3 separate regions of the Homo sapiens genome follow, and regions 1 and 2 are each linked to region 3. The links come from fine-mapping of genetic effects on gene expression. A gene starts in region 3. Each other region holds a variant in brackets. All regions are shown on one strand. Distances are from middle to middle. Region 1 overlaps MFHAS1 (multifunctional ROCO family signaling regulator 1). Region 2 overlaps MFHAS1 (multifunctional ROCO family signaling regulator 1). Region 3 holds the start of MFHAS1 (multifunctional ROCO family signaling regulator 1).

The links.
Region 1: its variant is fine-mapped to the expression of MFHAS1 in whole blood (TOPMed, PIP above 0.99).
Region 2: its variant is fine-mapped to the expression of MFHAS1 in blood mononuclear cells (TOPMed, PIP 0.99).

What each region holds. Positions count from the first base shown.
Region 1 is chr8:8,853,790-8,861,973 of GRCh38, reverse strand. All of the region lies in intron 1 of MFHAS1 (multifunctional ROCO family signaling regulator 1), which reads left to right. Among named protein-coding and RNA genes, the nearest start is that of MFHAS1, 36 kb to the left of the region's middle. RefSeq lists an enhancer at 1,339-1,548. The variant C/T (reference allele first, on the strand shown) is at 4,675.
Region 2 is chr8:8,868,098-8,876,281 of GRCh38, reverse strand. The region is part of intron 1 of MFHAS1 (multifunctional ROCO family signaling regulator 1); the gene reads left to right. Among named protein-coding and RNA genes, the nearest start is that of MFHAS1, 21 kb to the left of the region's middle. RefSeq lists a silencer at 7,509-7,803. The variant C/T (reference allele first, on the strand shown) is at 5,006.
Region 3 is chr8:8,889,034-8,897,212 of GRCh38, reverse strand. It overlaps MFHAS1 (multifunctional ROCO family signaling regulator 1), which reads left to right and starts at 3,583. Exons shown (of 3, transcript NM_004225.3): 1 at 3,583-7,152. The coding sequence starts at 4,155. It also overlaps the pseudogene RNU6-682P. RefSeq lists silencers at 3,438-3,687, 3,698-3,977, 4,088-4,357 and enhancers at 4,202-5,162, 5,163-6,122, 6,123-7,083.

The sequences.
Region 1 (8,184 bases), 35 kb after region 3:
TTGCCACATACTGGAAACAACTTGTCTGGTGCACAGATAAACACATTGTGGTATGCGACATAGCAAGGAAAAGAGATGAACTACTGATAAAGCGACATGGATGACTCTCAAAAGCATTATGCTGAGTGAAAGAAGCCAGTCGAGTACATATTGTATGACTCCATTTATATGAAGTTCTAGAAAAGGCAAAACTGATACACTGTCAGAAAGCAGGTCTGGGGCCGGTGGTATGGGGAAGGGATTTACTGCAGAGGGGTACAAGAGAACCTTTTTGTGGTGACGGGAATATTCTACCTCATGACTGTAGTGGAGGTTACGAGACTATATCTGTCAAAATGCATCAAGTTCTACGTTTAAAATTGGTGAATTTTATTACACGTAAAATGCCTTTATTATATCTTGTTAATTTAAAAAATAAGTTTTGATTATACGATTTCCTTAGATGTCCTGAAACATGCTGTTTTCACACTAATTTGGTATATACCTTGTGATTATATCCTTTGTATATGAATATTGTGGTAAGTGGAACATTGTTGTTGGAGATATATCCAGATTTTCTACCTTAGTTTGTGTGATTGATTATATTCTGTTAGACTGAACCACATGAAATTGTTGATATCCAATCATTCTTGACCTACAAAAGCAGCAATTTCACGTGGCATAAGTATAGTAGAAATTTTGTTTGCTTTTTAATTCATTGGAAAGACTTGGCAATGGTCACATCTCGATTGTGAAGTTTCAAGGATTTTGTAAGACACAAGGCCTGAGTGTTCTGTTTTACATTACATGTTTTATTTTGCTTTAATTCAGTTCGGTAGATGTTTTATATATGTCTACCACTTTTCAGGCATTCTACTTGAAATTACAGTGGATGAATGTAAAGATGAGTTTGATATTACCTCAGCCCAAGAAACGTTAAGTGATGAAATTAAAAGGCACGTGTAGACTTTCTGTCATAATCGCTAATAGGGACTGTGAAATAGAACTCCCAGTTCTTGTCATGTCCATTGCAGTGATTATAATAAGGTATTTGGGCTTTCATAGTGATGAAATAAGTGGTTGTGGGTTTGTATACGTATGTATACATAAATATGTATGCGTATGAGCCCAGAAGAAATGGAAACGAGACCAATGATTTAATTTGCATGAAAATTAGAACTGTCTGCCAAGAGCAAACATCTCTCTCACCCTTTTTCAAGAGAAAAAAAGGTCTTGTAGTTTGGCATGACTCAGTGGATGACCTCACACTGATTCTCCTTTAGTTATTGCTTGAATGCGTGGAGCCCTCAGTCCTAAGTGAGGCGGTCTGGGTGATGTTATGGCATTTCATTTGGGAAAGCGGCTGTCACTTCATCCTTAAGCCTCCTGTTTGCTGTGATGGTGGCAGAGCCACTCTCAGCACCACAGGAAGAGCCCCGGGGAATTCCTGAAGACACATTCTAGAGAATCCGGTACAAGTGTATGTAGGTTGGTCACCTTGATGCCTTATTTTCTCAGGCTTCTAGTAGAGATGCATGCCAGCAAAATGGAAAGGAACAGAGGGCGTTCTTGAAGTTTCCTAACTGGCGTATTTTCTCCTTCTCTTTTTCTAATAATTAAGTACAGGGGACTGAGAAGGCAGGGGTTGTTGTTATTTTTACATGGAATGGACCTAACCTAGCAGTCAGATGAGATTGTTGACGCGTAGCACAGTCTGTTATCTTTGGGCATCTGCCACCAAAGAGAGTGTACCCAAGAAGGGCTGTCGTGTGAGTGGGATGGGTTTCCATCTTTTGTTCTGTGCTCTTTCTGTGGAATCTCAGGCCTGCGTGTGCTCCCTCTGACCGTACCTTGACTCTTGATGAAGGATTTGCAGCCCTGAGAGGGAGCAGGCAGACCCAAATTAATTATTTCCATTTTTTTTGTGGCACTGTGGGACAATGGGAGAGAATACAGGCTTTGGAGCCAGCCAAATGTGTTTCAGATCCTAAATCCTCCACCTAAGGTATGCAGTCCTGATGGGTAAGTTATTTTAATTTGTTTGAACTGCCACTTAACTGAAAATGGGATTAATACCAGATATCACTTAAAATTAGTAAAAAATACAGTTGACCCTTGAACAATGCAGGCATTGGGGGCACCGACCCCCCATTCAGTTGAACATCTAACTTTTGACTTTGCAGAATTTAACTACTAATAGCCTACTGTTGACTGGAAGTCTTACTGATAGCATTAACAGTCAATAGCACATATTTTGTACATTATAGATATTAGATACTATATTCTTACAATATAGTAAACTAGAGCAAAGAAAATGTTACTGAGAAAACCGTAAGGAAGAGGAAATATATTTACTGTTCCTTAAATGGAAGTAAATCATCGGTGAAGGTCTTCATCCTTGTCATGTTAAAATTGAGTAGACTGAGGAGGAGGAAGAAGAGGAGGGGTTGGTCTTGCTGTCTCAGGCATGGTAGGGGTGGAAGAAAACTGTCATATAAGTAGACCAGCACAGTTCACACCCGTGTTGTTAAACGATCAACTGTATTTTATTAAGCTGTCTTTGAATAGCACCAAGTATCTTAGTGTATGAGAAGGCCTCTGAGAAGTTCCACAGTTAGGAAACATGGTGAACTTTTTTTTTTGGTGTGAGGGGCACAGAGTCTTGCTCTGTCACCCAGGCTAGAGTGCAGTGGTGTGATCTTGGCTCACTACAACTTCCACCTCCTGGGTTCAAGTGATTCTCCTGCCTCAGCCTCCCAGGTGGCTGGGACTACAGGCGTGTGCCACTACACCCATGTAATTTTTGTAGAGACGGGGTTTCGCCATGTTGGCCAGGCTGGTCTCGAACTCCTGACCTCAAGTGATCCTTGCATCTCAGCCTCCCAAAGTTTTGGGATTACAGGCATGAGCCATCACTACCAGCCGTGGTGAGCTTTGTTTAACCAAGCATTTTTCAAACTTATTGACTGAAGAATCTTTATGTGTGTGTGTATGTGTGTGCATATGTAAGAAGTAACATCCGCTGGAGCTGGTATTGTGCAGAAAATATGTTGAGAAATATAAAACAGATATCTGGCTTGTGTTCCTCTATATAGTCTTTTTTGACTGAGAATGCTTTATCCTTGTTGTTACGGATATTTTCACTTTGTTTATTTCTATTTTGGTCTGAATCATGAGTGTAGTTGATCCTTGAACAACATAGATTTGAACTGCTTGGGTCCACCTCGACGCCACCTGTGCATACGGAGGGCTGGCTCATCTCATATGCAGGTCCCGAGGGCCAACTTCAGGACTTTATGCATAGATTTTGGTGTGCTGGGGATGGGGGCCCTAGAACCCAACCCCCCATATATATACCGAGGGAGGACTGTCTATTTTTGTTTTTTACCTGTGAGGCCATCGCCACAATGAAGAGAGTATCCCCCAAAAGGCATATTTTTAATATAGTTGTAATTATAGCATTGCATAATCGTTTTCAGTAACATAGGTCTCATCTGTTGCTCTAGGTCTTAGTAAAATAAATCACTCTTGTTGAACCCTTCCTAGGCTCCAAAACTGGATGGGCCATTTAATATAATTTTAAATATTAAATTTAAATTTTCTTTCATTTATTAGAATTTTCAAAGGGTAATAATGTTATATATTTAGATTTTGATGACATGGAGACATCTGAGACTTGCTTAGTTTTAAAAAAGCAAAATTTATGTCATACAGCTCTTGTAAGGACTGAATAAAATAATGCATATAAAAATGCCTAAGACAATGCTTGGCATGTAGTGGGCACTTACTAAACAATTTCCTTCCTTCCCTTGCTGGCTTCTTAACTACTCCCTGCCTTGTATACCCCCTGTGCTCCGTCCCAATTTCTGTTCAGATACTAGACAGATGGCTGTTGCTTTGGGATAGGTCAAAGGCTGTCAGGCGTGGAGGCAGGCAAATGACCCAGATCAGTGAACACCAGTCATTGTCTCAGAGCATTTTGTTTTGTTCAGCTCAGCTATTTGAATCATCTTGGATTTTCTCATTTGTTTAGAAAAAGGTTTCCCCAAAATTGGTGGTGTTGGGTTCCTGATAGCAAAATGTATCAACAAGTGGGCAGTCAGCATATGGAATTTGCCCAACTCTACAGGGAAACTTGCTTTAGGTATTTTAAAAGTTAACTTGTCAATGTCACTGTAGGACAGTTATATATCTACTGAGTTTACAAACAAAAGATTTTTTTTTGTTTTTTTTTTGAGACGGAGTCTTGCTCTGTTGCCCAGGCTAGAGTGCCTTGGTGCGATCTTGGCTCACTGCAACCTCTGCCTCCCGGGTTCAAGCGATTCTCCTGCCTTAGCCTCCTGAGTAGCTGAGACTACAGGCACCCGCCACCATGCCTGGCTAATTTTTATATATTTTTTGGTAGAGACGGGGTTTCACAATATTGGCCAGGCTGGTCTCGAGCTCCTGACCTTGTGATCCACCTGCCTGGGACTCCCAAAGTGCTGGGATTACAGGCGTTAGACACCGCGCCGGGCCTGAACTCATTTTTAATTAGAATTCTTATTATTTCAGTGGCTGAATGGAGGAAAAAAGAAAGGACCTAAGCCCAGAAAATTCACAGGTTTGTTTCAGGGTAGAAAAATTTGGCATATTTTGGCCTGGAAGATATCTCATTATGGAATCAGAAATCTGAAAGGGATATTAAATTAGGAG[C/T]AAACTTGTGCTGTGTTGGTTAACCACTGAAAGTTGCATTGGCAGTTTAGTAACTAAACAATAGGGCCACACGCGGAATTTATTGATGTCTCATGAACTTTCTGTTTAAATCTTTATTGCTTTGAATTGATAGGCTTCTTTTTTCCCTTCCACTTTGCTTAAGGGACTGAATCTGTTTTTGGCATTCTAAGACTCTTTTTAGAATTTGGCAGTGCCTCTCTAGGATGTTTTCTTCTGCACTGCCTCCAAAACAAAATTATGAACAGCCTGGCTCTTTCGGTATCTCTCCTCTTTTTTTTTTTTTTTTTTTTTTTTTTTTCACTTTCCTGATGTGAAAGTGTCAGGTTTTGAGCCAGTTTGAAAGATGAGAACTAGAATATATTTCTCTTTCTGATCTAGAGAATCCTAGTGGCTTCTAGGGCAGTGTATAAACAAAGCCCTGTGGCTGCAAGGTTTCCCGTGTGCAGCAATAAACTGATACATGCCGGTGACAGGAATCTGGCTCATGGGCTTGAAACCATCCATTAACTCATTAATTGACCAGACATCATGGGGGTCTGCTGAGTGCCATGGGGATGCTCTGTGCTGGGAAAGATGCAAAGATGAATAGGCTAGGAATAAAAGACCAATTTCATTTTTTAATGTGTCAGTATTTTTAATATTGAAATGTAGGACCTTGCAAGTAAAATACTATTAAGCTAATTTCCCAATTTAGAGTCTTTGAATTATTGTCTTGGATATTAAATATATTCAGTGTTTCCCACCAGTGGATCCCAAAGCCTCACCTGATATGTTTGGCAATTGTCAGGCCCTCTTTTTTATACTCCAGAGGAATTCCAACAGGAAATATGTACACACCATCCCTTACCTCCCTTGCTTCTTTTCTTTTCTGCGTCCTACTTTGTTTGATCTTGAAATACGGGGAAGTATCTTCTGGGCAAGTGCTGTTTCTGTGCCAGGCTGTGCAGGTCATGCTTGCCCCAGTGCCATGAGAAAGACACTCGAGTGAGCTCGGGACAGATCTCTCCAGCACTGTCCTGGCTTGACCCCACCTGACCAGTGACTCTTGTACCATGCCCAGCTCCTTTGGCTGCTGGAGCAAAAAGATCTAGGGAGTTTGTTTTCCAAATAAGGGCCCCAGATCTTACTTTCAGAGCTGTGCATGTGAGGAGTTCATGGGGAATCCCTCATCTCAGCAGACATGGGGAAGACCGTCTTCTAAACTGTAGTTCTGAAACAGGTAAACATTCAGTCCCCGCTCGCTTTCAAAGCACAAAAGTGAGGAGGCTTATTTGGCATTGAAATAACTGAGCATCTTTTCTCATCTGTGTTTCTGAATCTGTTATGGCCAGTGTTTTATAACCCCCTTCACATTACCTTGTCAGTAACTTGCTTCAGATGAAAATAACGGCAGAAAGCATAATTTTTTGTTTTTTTCTTTTTTGAGACGGCGTCTCACTCTGTTGCCGAAGCTGGAGTGCAGTGGCGTGATCTCGGCTCACTGCAACCTCAGCCTCCCAGGTTCAAGTGCTTCTCCTGTCTCAGCCTCCCAAGTAGCTGGGATTACAGGTGCCTGCCACCATGCCTGGCTAAATTTTGTATTTTTAGTAGAGAGTAGGTTTTGCCATGTTGGCCAGGCTGGTCTTGAACTTCTGACCTCAAGTAATCCACCCGCCTCGGCCTACCAAAGCGCCAGGATTACAGGTGTGAGCCACCGTGCCTGGCTGAAAACACTGTAGCGAGTTCATGAATCAGGATTAAAGAATCTGTGGGATATATAGAATGATAGAATAAATTCTATAACGTTCATTTTCATTGTGCAGGATGGAGACATTAGTGTGCATCTCAGTTAGGATTTAATTGCTCCTTCCCTGTGTTCTTGAAAGCGCTTGGAAAGCGCCTCCAATCCTCCATTGTATGATTCTAGTTCAGGTCTGGCTCTTTCACCAGACAATGAGCTCCTGTGGTAAGATGCCATGTCTTAATTCATCTGTTTTCCGCTTGTCCTAATACAATGTTAAGATTGCCAGATAAAATACAGGATGTCGGCTGAGTGTGGTGGCTCACGCCTGTGATCCCAGCACTTTGGGAGGCCGAGGCGGGTGGATCCCCTGAGCCCAGGAGTTCGAGACCAGCCTGGGCGACATGGCGAGACCTCTCTCAACAAGAAATAAAAAATAATTTTGGTATGCTGGGGGTGGGGGCCCTAGAACCAAACCCCCCATATATACTGAGGGAGGACCACGACTGTGGTCCCAGCTTCTTGACAGGCTGAGATGGGAGAATCACTTGAGCCCAGGAGATGGAGGCTGCAGTGAGCTGTGATAGTATCACTGCACTCCAGCGTGGGGTATAGAGTGAGATCCTGTATCAAAAACAAAGAAACAAACAAACAAAACCCCAAAAACCCAAAACCAAAAAAACAGGATAGCCAGTTAAATTTGAATTTCAGATAAACAATAAAGTGTTGCTTATGGGTGGGTCTCATGTATACATCTATTCTTACATCTGAATTTCACGTAAGCAACGAATAATTTTTAGTGTAAATATGTTCCATGTGATGTTCTGATTTAGTCATAATACATATTTTTTTCTTTCTTCCTTTTTTTTTTTTTGAGACAAAGTCCCCCTCTGTCATCCAGGCTGGAGTGCAGTGGTGCAATCTTGGCTCACTGCAACCTCCACCTCCAAGGTTCAAGCAATTCTCATACCTCGGCCTCCTGAGTTGCTGGGACTAGAGGCATGCACCACCTCACCTGGCTAATTTTTTTTTTTTTTTGAGACAGAGTCTCGCTCTGTTGCCCAGGCTGGAGTGCAGTGGTGCGATCTCAGCTCACTGCAAGTACGGCCTCCCGGGTTCACTCCATTATCCTGCCTCAGCCTCCGGAGTAGCTGGGACTGTAGGCGCCCACCACCAAGCCTGGCTGATTTTTTGTATTTTTAGTAGAGACGGGGTTTCACTGTGTTAGCCAGGATGGTCTTGATCTCCTGACCTCTTCTTGACCTCCCAAAGTGCTGGGATTACAGGCGTGAGCCACTGCACCTGGCCTAATTTTTATGTTTTTAGTAGACACGGGGTTTCACCATGTTGGCCAGGCTGGTCTTGAACTCCTGACCTCAAGTCATCCTGCCACCTTGGCCTCCTAGAGTGCTGGGATTACAGCTGTGAGCCACCACACCCAGCGTATATTTTTGTTTTGTAAATTGGGCAACCTTATACAATGCCCATGACTTACAAAGGATTTTTTGCTCCTAAATCAGTGTAATTTAATAATGTGAACACAACTAAGACAAATCAAGGTGTTCATGGAGTTGGTTGGTGTCTTTTATGGAATGCAACATGGGAATTGGAAATAGTAATTATCCACCTTCACCAGTGTGTTAGTGAGTATGGACCATTTAACCTACAACAGTTGGATAACCTTGACAATAGAAATAGGTAGCTAAGCCAGGGGTGGTGGCTCCTAGTACTTTGGGAGGCCGAAGTAGGGGGATCACTTGAGGTCAGGA
Region 2 (8,184 bases), 21 kb after region 3:
TGGGATTTTGTGTAGTTTTCAAATTGAAGCATTATAATATGGTGGTTAGTTGCAAGAGCTCTTGGAGTAGACTGCTGGGCTCTAATCCCTGTGCCACTGCTTCTTAGTTATGTGACTTTAGGCATCATAATAGTTTGTGTTGGTTCTGAAGATTGAGTTATATGTGTTAAATGCTTAGAACAATGCTTGACACCTGGCAAGAGCTCAGTAGGAGTTTGCTGCTGTTTCCACCATTCCAGAAGGTACAAGAGTCTAAACATACTTTTAGAAGAGTGATAAGTTTGTGGATCAAAACTCTTTTCTTCATAGAAGAGGTGGAATACAGTATGATCTCTGTTCATATGAACACCTTATGCTCTTTTAAAAATGCTTTTTCCCCTTTATAAAAACTTATAGGCCGGGCATGGTGGCTCACACCTGTAATGCCAGCACTTTGGGAGGCCGAGGCGGGCGGATCACGAGGTCACGAGTTCGAGAGCAGTCTGACATGGTGAAACCCCGTCTCTAGTAAAAAATTGCAAAAATTAGCTGAGCGTGGTGGCACGCACCTGTAATCCCAGCTACTCAGGAGGCTGAGGCAGGAGAATCGCTTGAACCCAGGAGGCAGAGGTTACGGTGAGCTGAGATCGTGCCACTGTACTCCAGCCTGGGTGACAGAGCGAGACTGACTCAAAAAAACATAAAAAATTTGGAGAGTAGAAGAAAAAAAAGTTTCTCATGGTGGGTATCTAAAGTAATCACTACACATTTTGCTCTGTGTCTTTTAGCTTTGTTTCCTCCTTAAGCTTAGGTTTTAAAAATATGTAGTTATAATTGTATAAATAATTCAAATATTGATTTTTTAAACTTATGCTAACATGGATATAATTTCCTGTGATTAGTATTTATACAGTAATTAAAAATGCTTGCATAATAGTACATCAAGGTGATTTTTCACCTTTGTTTATTTAACCTTGTGTTCTTTTTGTTTATCCAACCATTTGTGCTCTTGTTCCCAGTTTTTTTTGTGAGTGATTCTCTGATGACTGTATTTCTTTATAAAAACTCTTTTTTATTTGGGCAGTAATCCCCGAAGTAGAGTCATTGAGTCAAAGGCAAAAAATGTCATTAAATCTCAATGCACGTTTACGTTGCTTCCCATGAGGATGGGCACGTCAGATGCAAGATCTTTTTCACTGTACCTCCTCAACATTGGGTATCATCTATAAAATGCACTACCGTTTAATGGAAACAATATGTCACTGGTGACTGAAGATTTTAACTAGTGGATGTGAACGTTTTCTTGTATAAATGTTGCCTAATTGTGTTGCTTCTTTTCTGAATCCTCTAATAACATCTTCTGGCATCATCTTGGTGGTTTTTCTTTTTTTTTTTTTAATCACAGTGTTTTATCAGTTTATATTAACTCTTCATATATAAAAGATAACCTTTTGTCTATCATACTTAAGGCATTTTTTTCTAGCTTGTTCCCCTCTTTGCTTTAAAAACCTTTAACGTTTTGAAGTTTCAAATTTCATTCAGTATATTAATAGCTTCCTCTGTGATTTCTTCTAGAGCTTAAAAAAACCTCATAACATTTTTCTAAATACAGAGGTGACAGCGGGAATCACATAGTGATTCTTCACCCTTATAACTTTAACTGAAAATAAAAAAAGTGCTATCCATATGTGGATGGTAGATTCATTAGCAAAGCCCCCTTTTTCATAACCCCTCCCCAAACTGTCTCCTCTGTAAAATGTTTCTTGCTGATTTCTTCCAGGGAAAATAAAGCATGTATTTGCATATATTTTAACAGGAATGAGATCATGCTGTACTCCTTGTTCTGCACCTCGCATTTGATCACTTCAAAATATATTTTTGAGATGCCTCCATATGAACAGTTAGAACCCTGTTATAGAAGATTATTATGTGTGTGTGTGTGTGTGTGTGTGTGTGTGTGTGTGTGTGTGTAGAATGTTATAGTATATCCTACAAATATAGCATAGTAGTCTACCAATGGATGTATTGTTCAGTCACACCTATACCGGCAGACCTTTGATCCTTTCCAGATTGTTAAACTAAGTACGTTCTCCACCTTCCAGAGGTGTAAGAAATACTCAGTTTTATTTCCTTCAGGGTTAATAATCCCTCTCTGTGCTCGGAACACTCTTGAGATGCAATTAGAAAAAGACAAATCTCTAAATCAAAGTGGTGGGACCTAAAAAAAGCCTCGAGGGTTATGAAGGCTTCGCTTTGTGATTTGAAACAAGGTAATTTTTTTAAATTGGCTTTGGTGATGTGTATTGGAACACCATTGTTTTCAGCATAATTACGCATTTCACAGCTTAATTCAGCCATTACACGTGATGCAGTGTTTAGACATAGCAATAATTACAAATTGTACATGTTTACAGATAGATATACCGCTGATCAAAATAAAACAGTGGCAGCAAGAATGATGTTCTGTCCATGTAAGAAATCAATGAAATATAATTAAGAACGAACTGTATCTCATTGACTCAAAACATTGCATCTGCCTTTCTGTCCCATCTGTTTTCTAAACAAAAATCTTCCCGCGCTGCGTGGTTGTTTTTATTTGTATCCTAGAACCATCCTCTCGAGTTCCACACCGTTGTATTTTCTACACCTAAGCTTGGTGTGTTCTGCACAGGAAATGTTTCTTGGATGTTTTATCCTCATACCAAGTGGGAATTTAAAATTTAAGAGATTACCCACACTCTTTGCCTTTCTGTACATGTGATGAAGAAAGAGTGGGTGTAACCCAGCACTCTAAAATGTGTTTGACCTGTAAAAAAAAAAAAAAAAAGTAAGCAATTAAATCCTGTTATAGTTGCTTCTGTGTTTAAAACATACTTAATGACGTATATATTTATTTCAAGCTAACAAAGTCCCCAGTCAGGTTCTTGGGAGTTTTTTTCACAGGACTCATTGAAGTGTTTGGTCTTTAAAATCCTTCATTTCATGCTAACTGCCAAGTCAATGCAGACAGTATGGCCGAACAGAGCTGGTCACATTTTCCCTGAACATGCTATTAAAAAATATATTCACTGGGATTCTCTTGACTCATGGCATAGCTGAGGTGACTTTGATTCCGGAGGGCTATTGCTTATGAATTGCATGTGGAAGAACTAAAAATAGAAATGTGAATTTTCCAAAAGAACACTATGATACCAAAAATGGCTCACTGGCTTGCCTAGAGCTGGGCTGTTTTGTGCCCAAGGTACAGTAATAAGAACTGGGATGCAAAGCCCTGTAGGGTGCATCTGTCCCCTTCCCTGACACCCCTCACTCCCAGATGGCTCACGAGTGGCACTGCCCGGTTGTCTCCGTCTCACTCTTGCACGATGTTCTGCTGCCTGTCTGGGATGGAGCAGGTGTTCTTTTGAATGTATTTGTTAAGCCTCTGAAATATATGCATTTCCCCCTCCCCAAGAAAAACACACATGTGCATGCTCTGTGCTTTTCCCTGGTTACTGTATTGTTCCCATCTTTTTTTTTATTTTTATTTTTTCCCTTGGAATAGGGAATATCCACTCATTTTCTATTTAGTCCCTTCAGGAATTTGCCTTAGGGGCTGTTGGGCCAGGCCTCACTGCAGCCAGCCAGAGCTTATCAGCTGTGTGTTAACCTCTCCCAGACACTTCTTGAATGCTGTTCATGCATCCGAGCCTATGCATCTGAGCCTCCTCTGTGTAATGTGGTGCGGCATTAAAAGCTTACCCAAATAGCAGGGATGATTGCATCTTGTTGATTACCAGGGCTGATAACATTTTCTTGCTTAGCTAAAAAGAAAAGCCAGATGACTGTTTCCAGGAAGTGATAAACTGCCATGCATCCGGCCCCAGGTGGTCCGCATGAAGGAAGCTGCAAGGTTGGAATCCTCCTGCCGTCCCCTTTTACAGTTCATAAATCTTCTGATTTATGGGGCCATTTGTGATTGCAGACACATTTATTCATGGGGGGATTTCCATCGAGATCATAACCCACTGTAAAGCAGGAGGAAGAATCAGGAATTAGAACGGTGTACATTCCTCTTTGTTAGAAAAGAATCCCGATTCTTTGGTCATAGACAAATATTTGCTTTTGAAGAATCTGGTGGTGTGTCGCTGGCTTTGTTCATATCCGTGCACAGTCACATGCTCCCTTGCCTCCCATGGACCCAGAAGCTTATGTTACACAGATCGTTTTATAATGCTTGCCATCCGGGCATGTTTATGCAAAGTGTGAATAACTTTTTGCCTTAGCCTCCTCTTCCTTCCTTCTCCCTCCTTTGATTTAGCTCATTTCTGGAATGGGGCAGATTTTCATCTCAGGGAGTTGATACGGTTTCCTAGGTAGGGTGACAGAACAAGTGTCACCTTAGCTGTAGCTAGAGATGAATATTGCCATGCAGCTTACTTGCTTTATATTAAACCAGCATTAGAGAAAGAGGCCTTGCATCTTTTATCAGCAGTATGTTAACCTCTCCCAGGCACTTCTTGAATGCCATTCATACATCTGAGCCCATGCATCTGAGCCTTGGATGTAATTAAATCAGTGGATTAGGAAGTCGGGGGCCTGGACCTCTGGGAAGCCACTTGGCCTCCCTGGGCCTCAATTTCGTCTGTAAATAGGTAAAAATAATTCTAACAGTTCCCAAGCATTTACACCTGCTATCAGAGTCTCCTTAGATGTTGTGAGGGGGAAATGAATGAATAGATGTCAAGTCCCCAAGTAGTTTTTTCTTTGTTTGCGTGTTTGTGATCACTCTGTTGCCCAGGCTGGAGTGCAGTGGAGTGATCTTGGCTCACTGCAACCTCCACCTCCCTGGTTCAAATGATTCTTGTGCCTCATTGTCATGAGTAGCAGGGATTACAGGCATGTGCCACCATGCCCAGCTAATTTTTGTATTTTTAGTAGAAACTGGGTTTCACCAAGTTGGCGAGGGTGGTCTCAAACTCCCGACCTCAAGTGATCCAGCCCCCTCGGCCTCCCAGAGTGCTGGGATTACAGGTGTGAGCCATCA[C/T]GCCCAGCTGCAAGTAGTTTTTACCATATAATAAGGGCTCAGTAAACATTAGCTCTGATTACCATCATCCTGGTTTACAGATGAGGAGTGGAGACAGAGGAGGGCTAAGTCATATGGCCAGGGGCACACAGCATGTAGCAGAGCCCAGGTTGTCCTCAGGAACCTATGGTCTTTGCTGTCACCCTGTGCTGCTTCTCAGGAAGGCAATAGCTTGTCACCCATTAAAAATGGGTAGTTATTTGAATGAAAAGCAGAATAACCCCCGGAGGCAGAGGTTGCAATGAGCTGAGATTGCACCATTGCACTCCAGCCTGGGCAACAGAGTGACGCTCCTGTCACCAAAAAAAGAAAAAAAGTAAGGACTCCTTGTGTGAAATGCACATGGTTGCTTTTAACATTGCAGTACTGGACTATAAACATTTGCTGGGGATTGGCAGTGACCAGCCATGGGGCAGAGCATGGGGCATGGGAGGGGAGCAAGGCCTTGACCCCGGGAAGCTGCAGTCCAGGGAAGCAGTGTGGACAGTAAGCAGAGATTTGCAGGGCTGTGTAATAAATTCCAGGAGAAAAAGATCTCCAGGGGCTCGGAGAGGCCTGCGGGATGGAATCTGTCTTGATCCACGTGTGTGTGTGTGGGGTGGTTAGATGGATGGGAGGTCTCCAGGGGAGGTGAGTCGTAGGGACTTTCTGTAAAACCAGGGCCCCTGACGTGTGATGGGCTGTACAAATTACTGGCAGCCCAACTATTCATTTATCAATGCACGTCTGTAAATATTTTTGTTTTCTTTTTAAACCTTTTTTGTTTTCCTGGGAGACAGAGTCTTGCTCTGTCATTTAGGCTGGAGTGAGGTGGCGCGATTTCAGCTTACCACAGCCTCAACTTCCTGGGCTCAAGCTATCCTTCCACTGCAGCCTCCCGAGTTAGCTGAGACTGTAGGTGCGTGCCACCATGTCTGGCTAATTTTTTTTTTTTTTTTTTTTTTTTTGTAGAGACAGGGTCTCACTATGTTGCCTAGGCTGGTCTTGAACTCCTGTGCTTAAGTGATCTGTGCATCTTGTCCTCCCGAAGTGCTGGGATTACAGGTTGAACCACTGTACATATCCCGTGTAAATAACTTTTAGCCTATCTATTCACTAGCTAACACTTTTTCACCAGAAGGAACTTCTGGCATCTGGGTGTTAAGCTAAATTAAAGCCTGATGGTTTTTTTCAGAGGGTGAGAGGAAAATACTGAAGGGTCAAATGGGGAAATGTCAAATTTCCATTTTGTCAGCACACTCAGGGCAGCAGTGTGGAAGATGGATTTCAATGGAGTAAGAATGGAGTCAGAGGGACCACTTAGAGGTAATTCAGACAATAATAAACAATAGAGGCCCCCAGGTAGGTCCTTGGGGATGAAGGCAATTGAGTCTTGGATGTTAATGAGGCAGAGTCCTGGGCCTCTCTCCTCCTAGCTCTGAGCTCTTGAACCTTCCCAGGCTCCGGTTTCCTCATCCATTAGACAGAAAGCATGACTGATTTAAGTGTATGTTTCAAGAAAAATTTTAACCACAGCGGGAAGAAGACTGCAGCATGTTTTAAAAAACAGAAAGCGGAAGTGATTTGATAAGATTAATTTCAACAGGACTGATGTGGAACGGCTGCTAGCTTAATTGGTTTATTAGGGTCGTGTAGCCACCCTCTTATGATGGATACCAGGTGAATTCCAGGAGATATATAGTCTTAGGTTTGTAAGCAGTGCCATTTGCAGAGGAATAAGGTTCTTTATTTCTTAAATTTGGAAGGGTCTCATAGAAATAAGAGACTTTATAAATATCTAGTAACCTGTCACCGCTTTAAAATACCGCAAAGATAAATGATGCTGATTGTCGCGTGCTTGGCATGATGAATTATGTATGTAGCGTGCCCCGGAGTTCTTTATGGTTGTGCATAACGAATCAGCTTTTGTTCTAGCTTATTTTCAGTGGTAGTGCTTGTAAAAGCAGAGGTCAAAGCAGATGCACTGAAGAGATGTGGTTGGTGCAGGATGATCGGGTTTTGCTATCCTGTTCTGTGCATTGCTTTTGTTTGTGCTTTGATTTTTCATTATCAACTTTGGGGAGGGTGGGAGAGCAGCCTTGTGGCATTAACAGCTGCATGATGGCACAGAGCAGGCAGCGACTCTTCTTGGTTCATGCACCTCAAAAGCGGCCCTCTTTTTGCCTTCCTCCTCCTCCTCTCTGCACCTGCTTTGCATAGCTGTTAACTACTTTTCCACCTAATAATAAAGGAAATTGAAATAAATGGTTAGGAACATGCCCATAATCTTTTTTCTCACTGACTTTCTCTAAACTCTAGACGAAACTAGAGAGGATTAAGAAATGTAAAACACAGCAGAGAATGTCTTTTTTTTCCTCTCCCTTTTTCTCTTCCCCTAGCAAAGATTTCTTTAGAATCTGAGTGAGATATCAGAGGTGCTGTTTGCATATGAAGTAGCGATGACTATGGGTGGAAGCCAGTTGTAAGGTTGCATAGTCATTTATAACTTCTTTCTATGTTAAGGTTACTACCGACTTTATGAGAGGAGCCTCCCAGACTCAGGTGTCATGCCTGACTCATGAGTAATTCATTAGAGAGGGCCCAAGCCATGTATTTCATTGTGGGTTTGTGAGCGGCCTCATCTTCCATAAGATGCTCATTTGTTGGGCTGATCCAAGGCAAAGATCCGAGTAGTTGGGAGTAGCTCCAAATTGGGATGAGCCCAGGCCTACTGTGCATATCTGTTTGGAAGGGCACATCTGTCTACCAAGGGCTGGTTCCAGTGTATTAGCCGAGTGGCACTAGGTAATCAGTTTACAGTCAGTTTAAAAAAGTTGAGGCTATCCTTCTCGGTGATTAATTATGGCTTTTAGTTCATACTAGATTAAAAAAAATCTTTGCATCTTTGCAAGAATAATCATTAACTTAGTTTGTCTATATTATTAGCCGAAAGATACAACACAGTGCTCATGCAGTGTAGAGAAATGAGATAACATCTAGAGTTTACATGTAAGTAGCTATTTGTCAGGATATTTATTCATTGATTCTAGATTCATAAAGCAGGAGTTTCCAGAGGCCTTGCAGCAAGGAATAAGCACCTGGGAGATTCAACTGAATCCCCCTCAGAGCCTGTGCGTTGGGAACTTGGTCTAGAAAATGGA
Region 3 (8,179 bases):
CCTTGTGATCTGCCCGCCTCGGCCTCCCAAACTGCTGGGATTACAGGTGTGAGCCACTGCACCCAGCCCAGGAATCATTTCTATAGTTCTTTACGAAGCAGTTTCTTTGAAAGTGGAAAGCACAAAGAAAAAAAAATTTTAAAGCTATATGGAACACAATATCTTTTCATAGAGTTTTCTTTTATCATTGAGTTATCTTTTATCATTTGACTTTCTAGTTTTTAGCATACTGACTTTCTTTTGTTGTGTTGTGTTGTATTTTGAGACAGAGTCTCACTCTGTTTCCCAGGCTGGAGTACAGTGGTGCAGTCTTGGCTCACTGCCGCCTCCACTTCCCAGCCTCAAGTGATCTTCCCGCGTCACTCCTGAGTAGCTGGGACTACAGGTGTGCGCCACCACACCCTACTAATTTTTGTATTTTTTGTAGAGATGATGTCTTGCCTTGTTGCACAGGCTGGTCTCGAACTCCTGAGCTCAAATGATCTGCTCGCCTCAGCCTCTGGAAGTGCTGGGATTACAGGCATATACCCCTGTGCCCATTCACATACTGACTTTCAAAGAACTCATAGACAAGGATTCTTACAAGGCTTCCTACTATATTGACTGCATCAGCTGAGGGGCTCACAAAGAATTGCCACCCCCAGCACACTTATTCACTCCAGGCTTTGGGGCTTTAGTGGGGCTTGAAGCCCCTAGCGCAGGGTCCTAGCCAGTACTTTTTATTAGATAAAGCAAATTATAGATGATCTCCTGACAAATGAAGAGTGCAGTTTTCCAAGGACATTTAAAATAGAAGTATAAGCTGGTCAGGGTGGCTTATGCCTATAATCCCAGCTACTCAGGAGGCTCAGGCAAAAAGACTGCTTGAGCCCAGGAGTTCGAGTCCAGCATGGGCAACAAAGCAAGACCCCCATCTCCAGAAAAAAAAAAAAAAAAGAAAGAAAGAAAAGAAAGGAAAATATAATTTTCTTCAGAGAAAAAGTCTCACTCTGTCACCCAGGCTGGAGTGCAGTGGTGTGATCTTGGCTGACTGCAACCTCCGCCTTCTGGTTTCGAGCAACTCTCGTGCCTCAGCCTCCTGAGTAGCTGGGGACTAAAGGTGCGCACCACTATGCCTGGCTAATTTTTGTATTTTTAGTAGAGATGGGGTTTTGACATGTTGGCCAGGCTGGTCTTGAGCTCCTAACCTCAACTGATCCACCACCTCGGCCTCCCAAAGTGCTGAGATTACAGGCATGAGATGCCATGTCCGGCCATTTTTCTTTTTTAAAATAATTTTTTAAATGAAAATATTATTAAATAAATGAACACCATGAATTTGCATGTCATCTTTGTGCAGGGCCATGCTAATCCTCTCTGTATTTTTCCAATTTTAGTATATGTGCTGCTGAAGCAAGCACAATTTTCATTTTTTTCAATTGATTTCAGCTTCTGCAGGAGGAAGTATAATTTTCTGATGGCTTCTAAAGAGGAACAGTTAGCAGTTATTGAGATATAATCATGTAAGGTGGTGTAGGATGGTGATGCCTACTCCAGTCTCCTTACCCAGGCTGAGTTCATATTTTTGTTAGAAGAAGCTGCAGGATGGAGAATTTGGGGTCTGGCTCAAGAACAGTGTGAGTACAGGTGATGATCACAGGGGAATACATTCCACACGGGGAGTTAGCAGTCCTGCCTCTACTCTACTTTGATGGCTGATTGAGAAGTCACTTACTTTGAGCCCATTTCCTCCTCTGTGGGGGAAAAAAAGGGTCAGCCTAGATAACTCAGAATATTTGTTGTAAAATTGACTGTCTCTGGGAGGGAGTGTGGGTGGGGCTACCCTGAGCCATCTGAACTCTCGGAAGTCCTTCAGAGTGAACACAGATCAGCTCTTGCTGTTCACTTACTCACATTTCATCTGTGGTGTCAGAGCCTCAGGGACCCAGCAGAACTGGGGAACATCCTCCAGTTACAGCATGTACTACCTGCAGCCTGATAACCATCACTGGGGTGGATTTCCAGCCTCAGATGTTCAGGTGCTCTTTTTGGAAACACACACTTCTCACGTTACTGCACCAAATATGGGTCCCCAAATGACAGCCATAGCGCATGTCGGGGAGAGCTGCAGTGGGTCAAGTGATGCCTTTAACCAACTGAACGCAGTTTTCGGTCCCTGAAAACTATTTGCTTCCTTATCAATCAACCTGAAGGGAATGATGGAGGTGACACTGGGAGTCTTGGTAGGTTTCCAGACTTTCATAAGTTCGGGAGAAATTATTGACTTAGCATAGATGTGAGCTCAAAGAAACATTTCCTAACAGCAATAAAAATAAGCATTAGAGTTGAACAATGGACTGTGACTGTTTCCCAAAATAGCTGTTTTCTTGAGTCCGCAGAACAACAGGTACTGTATTAATGGGGATACAGTATTTGTTTCACAGCGTTGTTGTGAAGATAAACGGGATACCCCAGATAAACAGCTTGTGTCCCCCCCATCTTAACAACCCTCCTTTAGGCTGGCGGGCCACCTGCTCAAAAGCCTTCCCCAGGGGGGTTAAAACCGTCTTTTAGTAGTTCTGGTACGGGTGGGCTGGGGGAGATCCTCTAAAGCCAGTGCGACCTTGACCCCAGCCAATGTCCAGGCTCTTGACACATCCAGAGAATGAGTTCAAGGACAACTCAGAAAATAGTGACAATATGCAGATTTATTGCAAAGGGAAAAGTACACACCCAGGAAAAGGGATTGTGGAGAGGGTCACTCACAACGGGGCTTGGGGCTGCTACCTTTATGGGTTTCTTTAACCAAGGGGTGAAATATTCATGAAAATTCCTGGAAAAGTGTGGAGATTTTTCGGGACTGTGGTGCCACCCATTTTTACTTCAAATATGGGTGTCCCCGGAATTGTCATGGCACTGGTGTGACTTAGGATGTTAAAGAGCGTATAATGGAGGCCTAGGAGAAACCTAGGTCAAATCCAGGACCACGTCGGGTCCAGCCGGTCTTAGCCAGCTTGGTACACACCCTGGTTTTCAGGGTCTTATCAGCCCATAGCCTCCAGTCAAGTGAAACTGCTGCCTGGTATTTTTTATTCTCCTCTGACCAGCCTGCATTACTCCTGTCCCATGTTCAACACGAAATAGGGCCTCAGGAAATATTTACCAAATGAATGAATGGTTGCCTGTTCTAATTTTGTTTAACCACACTCTTGTCCTAAGCTTCTATGATGATACCCAGGGCCCCCGAGTTGTGCCAGTTCCACTACGGCGTGGATGCAAGGCGAGCGGCAGGGGAGCAGGTAAAGGATGAGTAAGGGAAGCCGGCGGATCCGACGCATTAGAGAACAAGAAAAAGAAATCCTTAGAGACTGGGGGCCAACAAAGAGCCAGGCGCGGGCGAACCCACCAGGGGGGCCCCGGAGCCCCACATCCGCCGCTGGGACGACCTCCCCGCCCAGCATGGTCCGGGGCGCGGACCCGGCCCCGCGCCAGGCGCCCCCGGCCCCGCACCCGGCGCCCTCCGCAGCTCCCGCCCCCGGGGCGGTGCCGGGAAAACGCGGCGCCTCCGCCGGTCACGTGGGGGCCGCTCCGGCGGGCGGCGCTGCCGCTTCCCAATCGCGCCCTCCCAGCGCCGGGGACGCGGCGCCCGCGCTCCCGCCCGAGCCCGGGGAAACGGAGACAAGGAGGCGCCGCCGCCCCCTCCCCGCGGCTGCGCCCCAGCCCTGCGCCCGCAGCATGCCCGCCGCCGGGCCGAGCGCCGCCCTCCCCCAGGAGCTCGAGGAGGCGACGCCGCTGCCGGCCGCGGGACCGCGGCTGCGAGGGTAGCGGGGCCGGAGCCGGGCCCCCCGAGGCGCCGCGCGGCGGGCGGAGAGGGAGGAGGAGCAGGCATCCTCCGCGGCGCGCGGGCGGCGGCCCTGCTGCCCGGCGCGCCCATGGCCCGGCCGCAGGGAGAATGCAAGCTGCTCTCCACGCGCTCGGCGTCCCCCGGAGCCGCTCGCGTCGCCGCCGCCCCCTAGCCGCCAGCGCTCGGCCGCTGGCTGCGCTAGGACCCGCGGCCGCCGGCCGCCGAGCGCGGGAGGGCAGGCAGGGGCAGGAGCCGGAGGGCCCGGGGCGCGGCGCGGCATGTAGCTGCGGGCTCCCGCGTCCGCGTGAGGCTGTCGGCCCGGGGCCCCGCCATGGCTGGGATGGACAGTGGCAACCTGAAGACCGCGAGGCTGTGGCGGGACGCCGCCCTGCGTGCCAGGAAGCTGCGGAGCAACCTGCGCCAGCTCACGCTTACCGCCGCCGGGGCCTGCCCCGGGGCCGGGGCCGACGCGCTCGAGTCCCCCGCCTCCCCCCAGCTCGTGCTGCCGGCCAACCTCGGGGACATTGAGGCACTGAACCTGGGGAACAACGGCCTGGAGGAGGTACCCGAGGGGCTGGGGTCGGCGCTGGGCAGCCTGCGCGTCCTGGTCCTGCGCAGGAACCGCTTCGCCCGGCTGCCCCCGGCGGTGGCCGAGCTCGGCCACCACCTCACCGAGCTGGACGTGAGCCACAACCGGCTGACCGCCCTGGGCGCGGAGGTGGTGAGTGCTCTGAGGGAGCTGCGGAAGCTCAACCTCAGCCACAACCAGCTGCCCGCCCTGCCCGCCCAGCTGGGCGCTCTCGCTCACCTGGAGGAGCTGGATGTCAGCTTTAACCGGCTGGCGCACCTGCCTGACTCCCTCTCCTGCCTCTCCCGCCTGCGCACCCTGGACGTGGATCACAACCAGCTCACTGCCTTCCCCCGGCAGCTGCTGCAGCTGGTGGCCCTGGAGGAGCTGGACGTGTCCAGCAACCGGCTGCGGGGCCTGCCTGAGGATATCAGTGCCCTGCGTGCCCTCAAGATCCTCTGGCTGAGTGGGGCCGAGCTTGGCACGCTGCCCGCCGGCTTCTGCGAGCTGGCCAGTTTGGAGAGCCTCATGCTAGACAACAACGGGCTGCAGGCTCTGCCCGCCCAGTTCAGCTGCCTGCAGCGGCTCAAAATGCTCAACCTCTCCTCCAACCTCTTCGAGGAGTTCCCTGCCGCGCTGCTGCCCCTGGCTGGTCTGGAGGAGCTCTACCTTAGTCGCAACCAGCTCACCTCGGTGCCATCCCTTATCTCGGGCCTGGGCCGGCTTCTCACCTTGTGGCTGGATAATAACCGCATCCGCTACCTGCCGGACTCCATCGTGGAGCTGACCGGCCTGGAGGAGCTCGTGCTGCAGGGGAACCAGATCGCGGTGCTGCCCGACCACTTTGGCCAGCTCTCCCGGGTGGGTTTGTGGAAGATCAAAGACAACCCACTGATCCAGCCCCCCTACGAGGTCTGCATGAAGGGGATCCCCTACATCGCAGCCTACCAGAAGGAACTGGCTCATTCCCAGCCGGCGGTGCAGCCCCGGCTCAAGCTGCTCCTGATGGGGCATAAGGCTGCAGGAAAGACTTTGCTGCGCCACTGCCTCACCGAGGAGAGAGTGGAGGGATGCCCAGGAGGAGGGGACAAGGAGAAGTGCTACCCACCGTCACCTCCCCCTGTGAGCAAGGGCATCGAGGTGACCAGCTGGACGGCCGATGCCTCCCGGGGCCTGCGGTTCATCGTGTATGACTTAGCTGGGGATGAAAGTTATGAGGTGATCCAGCCCTTCTTCCTGTCCCCAGGGGCCCTATACGTGCTGGTGGTCAACTTGGCCACCTATGAGCCTCGCCACTTTCCTACCACCGTGGGCTCCTTCTTGCATCGGGTCGGGGCGAGAGTGCCCCACGCGGTGGTGTGCATCGTGGGCACCCACGCAGACCTGTGCGGAGAGCGTGAGCTGGAGGAGAAATGTCTGGACATTCACCGCCAGATCGCCCTGCAGGAGAAGCACGACGCGGAGGGACTGAGCCGCTTGGCCAAGGTGGTGGACGAGGCACTGGCCCGGGACTTCGAGCTGCGCTCTGCCAGCCCCCACGCAGCCTACTATGGCGTTTCGGACAAGAACCTTCGACGGCGCAAGGCCCATTTTCAATACCTGCTCAACCACCGGCTGCAGATCCTCTCCCCCGTGTTGCCTGTTAGCTGCAGGGACCCGCGCCACTTACGACGCCTTCGGGACAAGTTGCTGTCAGTTGCTGAGCACCGAGAGATCTTCCCCAACTTACACAGAGTACTGCCTCGATCCTGGCAGGTGCTGGAGGAACTGCATTTCCAGCCACCTCAGGCCCAGCGACTGTGGCTAAGCTGGTGGGACTCGGCGCGCTTGGGCCTGCAGGCGGGTCTGACCGAGGACCGACTGCAGAGTGCCCTCTCCTACCTGCATGAGAGCGGCAAGCTACTCTACTTTGAGGACAGTCCGGCTCTCAAGGAGCACGTCTTCCACAACCTCACCCGCCTCATCGACATCCTCAATGTCTTCTTCCAGAGGGATCCCTCTTTGCTGCTGCATAAGCTGCTCCTAGGGACCAGTGGAGAGGGCAAGGCGGAGGGGGAAAGCTCCCCGCCCATGGCGCGGTCCACCCCCAGCCAGGAACTGCTCCGGGCCACCCAGCTCCATCAGTATGTGGAGGGCTTTCTGTTGCATGGGCTCTTGCCAGCTCATGTCATTCGGTTGCTGCTTAAGCCTCATGTCCAGGCCCAGCAGGACTTGCAGCTGTTGCTGGAGCTGCTGGAGAAGATGGGACTCTGTTACTGCCTCAATAAACCCAAGGGCAAGCCTTTGAATGGGTCCACAGCTTGGTACAAGTTCCCATGCTATGTGCAGAACGAGGTGCCCCATGCAGAAGCCTGGATTAATGGGACCAACCTAGCTGGGCAGTCTTTTGTGGCTGAGCAGTTGCAGATTGAATATAGCTTTCCTTTTACTTTTCCACTTGGGTTGTTTGCACGCTACAGTGTCCAGATCAACAGCCATGTGGTGCACAGGTCGGATGGTAAATTTCAGATCTTTGCCTATAGAGGGAAAGTTCCTGTGGTTGTGAGTTACAGACCTGCCAGGGGAGTCCTGCAGCCAGACACCCTGTCCATTGCTAGCCATGCATCATTACCAAATATATGGACCGCATGGCAAGCCATAACCCCCTTGGTGGAGGAACTGAATGTCCTACTTCAGGAATGGCCTGGACTGCACTACACCGTGCACATTCTCTGTTCTAAGTGCCTTAAGAGAGGATCGCCCAATCCACATGCTTTTCCAGGTAAGTGGAGAGAGGGAGAAGTTCTTCTGTGGTATGCTGTAAGATATGTTTTTGGAGATACTTGGTTGTCATTTGGCAGAATGTTTGTTTAACTTCACGGGTTCTCCAGGAAAGCTTCGTAAGGGAAACACAGGGAGATTTGGAGATGAGCAAAAGGTAGTAAGTACCTGAGCCTTATGAAATGCAGTCACAAGTGTCATCCTCTCCTAACAGACTCAGACTTCCAAAATGGGTTCCAGTCACAACATTTGCCATCTCCTTTCCCCTCTTGTCGATGTAGCCCACATTTGGTGGAAGGAAATTTCAGGTGGTTGAACAGATAGATTCTGGACAGTGTCCGATGTTAGCCTCTTACTGATCGTTGGCTAAAGTGTTCATTAGACACGTCTCAAAGGGGTAGATGAGTTTGAGTTTCAAGTGTCCAGTGTCACAATTTTTTAAAAAACTTAAATTTTCGTGAGTACATAGGTTTGTATATTTGTGGGGTGCATGAGATGTTTTGATACAGGCATGCAATGCATAGAAATCAGATTGTAAAATGCGGTATCCATCCCCTCAAGCATTTAAGCACTCTGCTTACATTCAGAATGTAATTAGAAAGTAAAAATTACTGCTCACTTTTCTTAAGAAATTCCAGAGAAAATCTTTTGTAATTGGAGTGAACAATGGATGAGTAAAGACAGAAATTTCAGACTGTAATGCATGACTAAATCCTGGGGCTGCTGCTCCCCTCCGCCCACTCAGGGACATGGAAGATAGATGACTGAAATCTTTGAGGGGCGTTTCCTCGGGAATTTCCTGGCAGTTTCGAGTTTTATAGACGTCTTAAGGTTTGTTTTTTGGTAAGTGTTAAGCAAATGAAGCTTTCTGGCAGTGCTTAATAATTGAGACGGAAGGGACAGAAAGCTAAGAGTTTTCTGGAGAGTGTTTTCCAGTAGACTTTTTTTTCGTTTTCTTTTTTTAAACCATCATAAGCAAGTGGAAGAATTCCAGGACTAGTTGTCTGGGGTTTTTTGTTTTTTTTTTT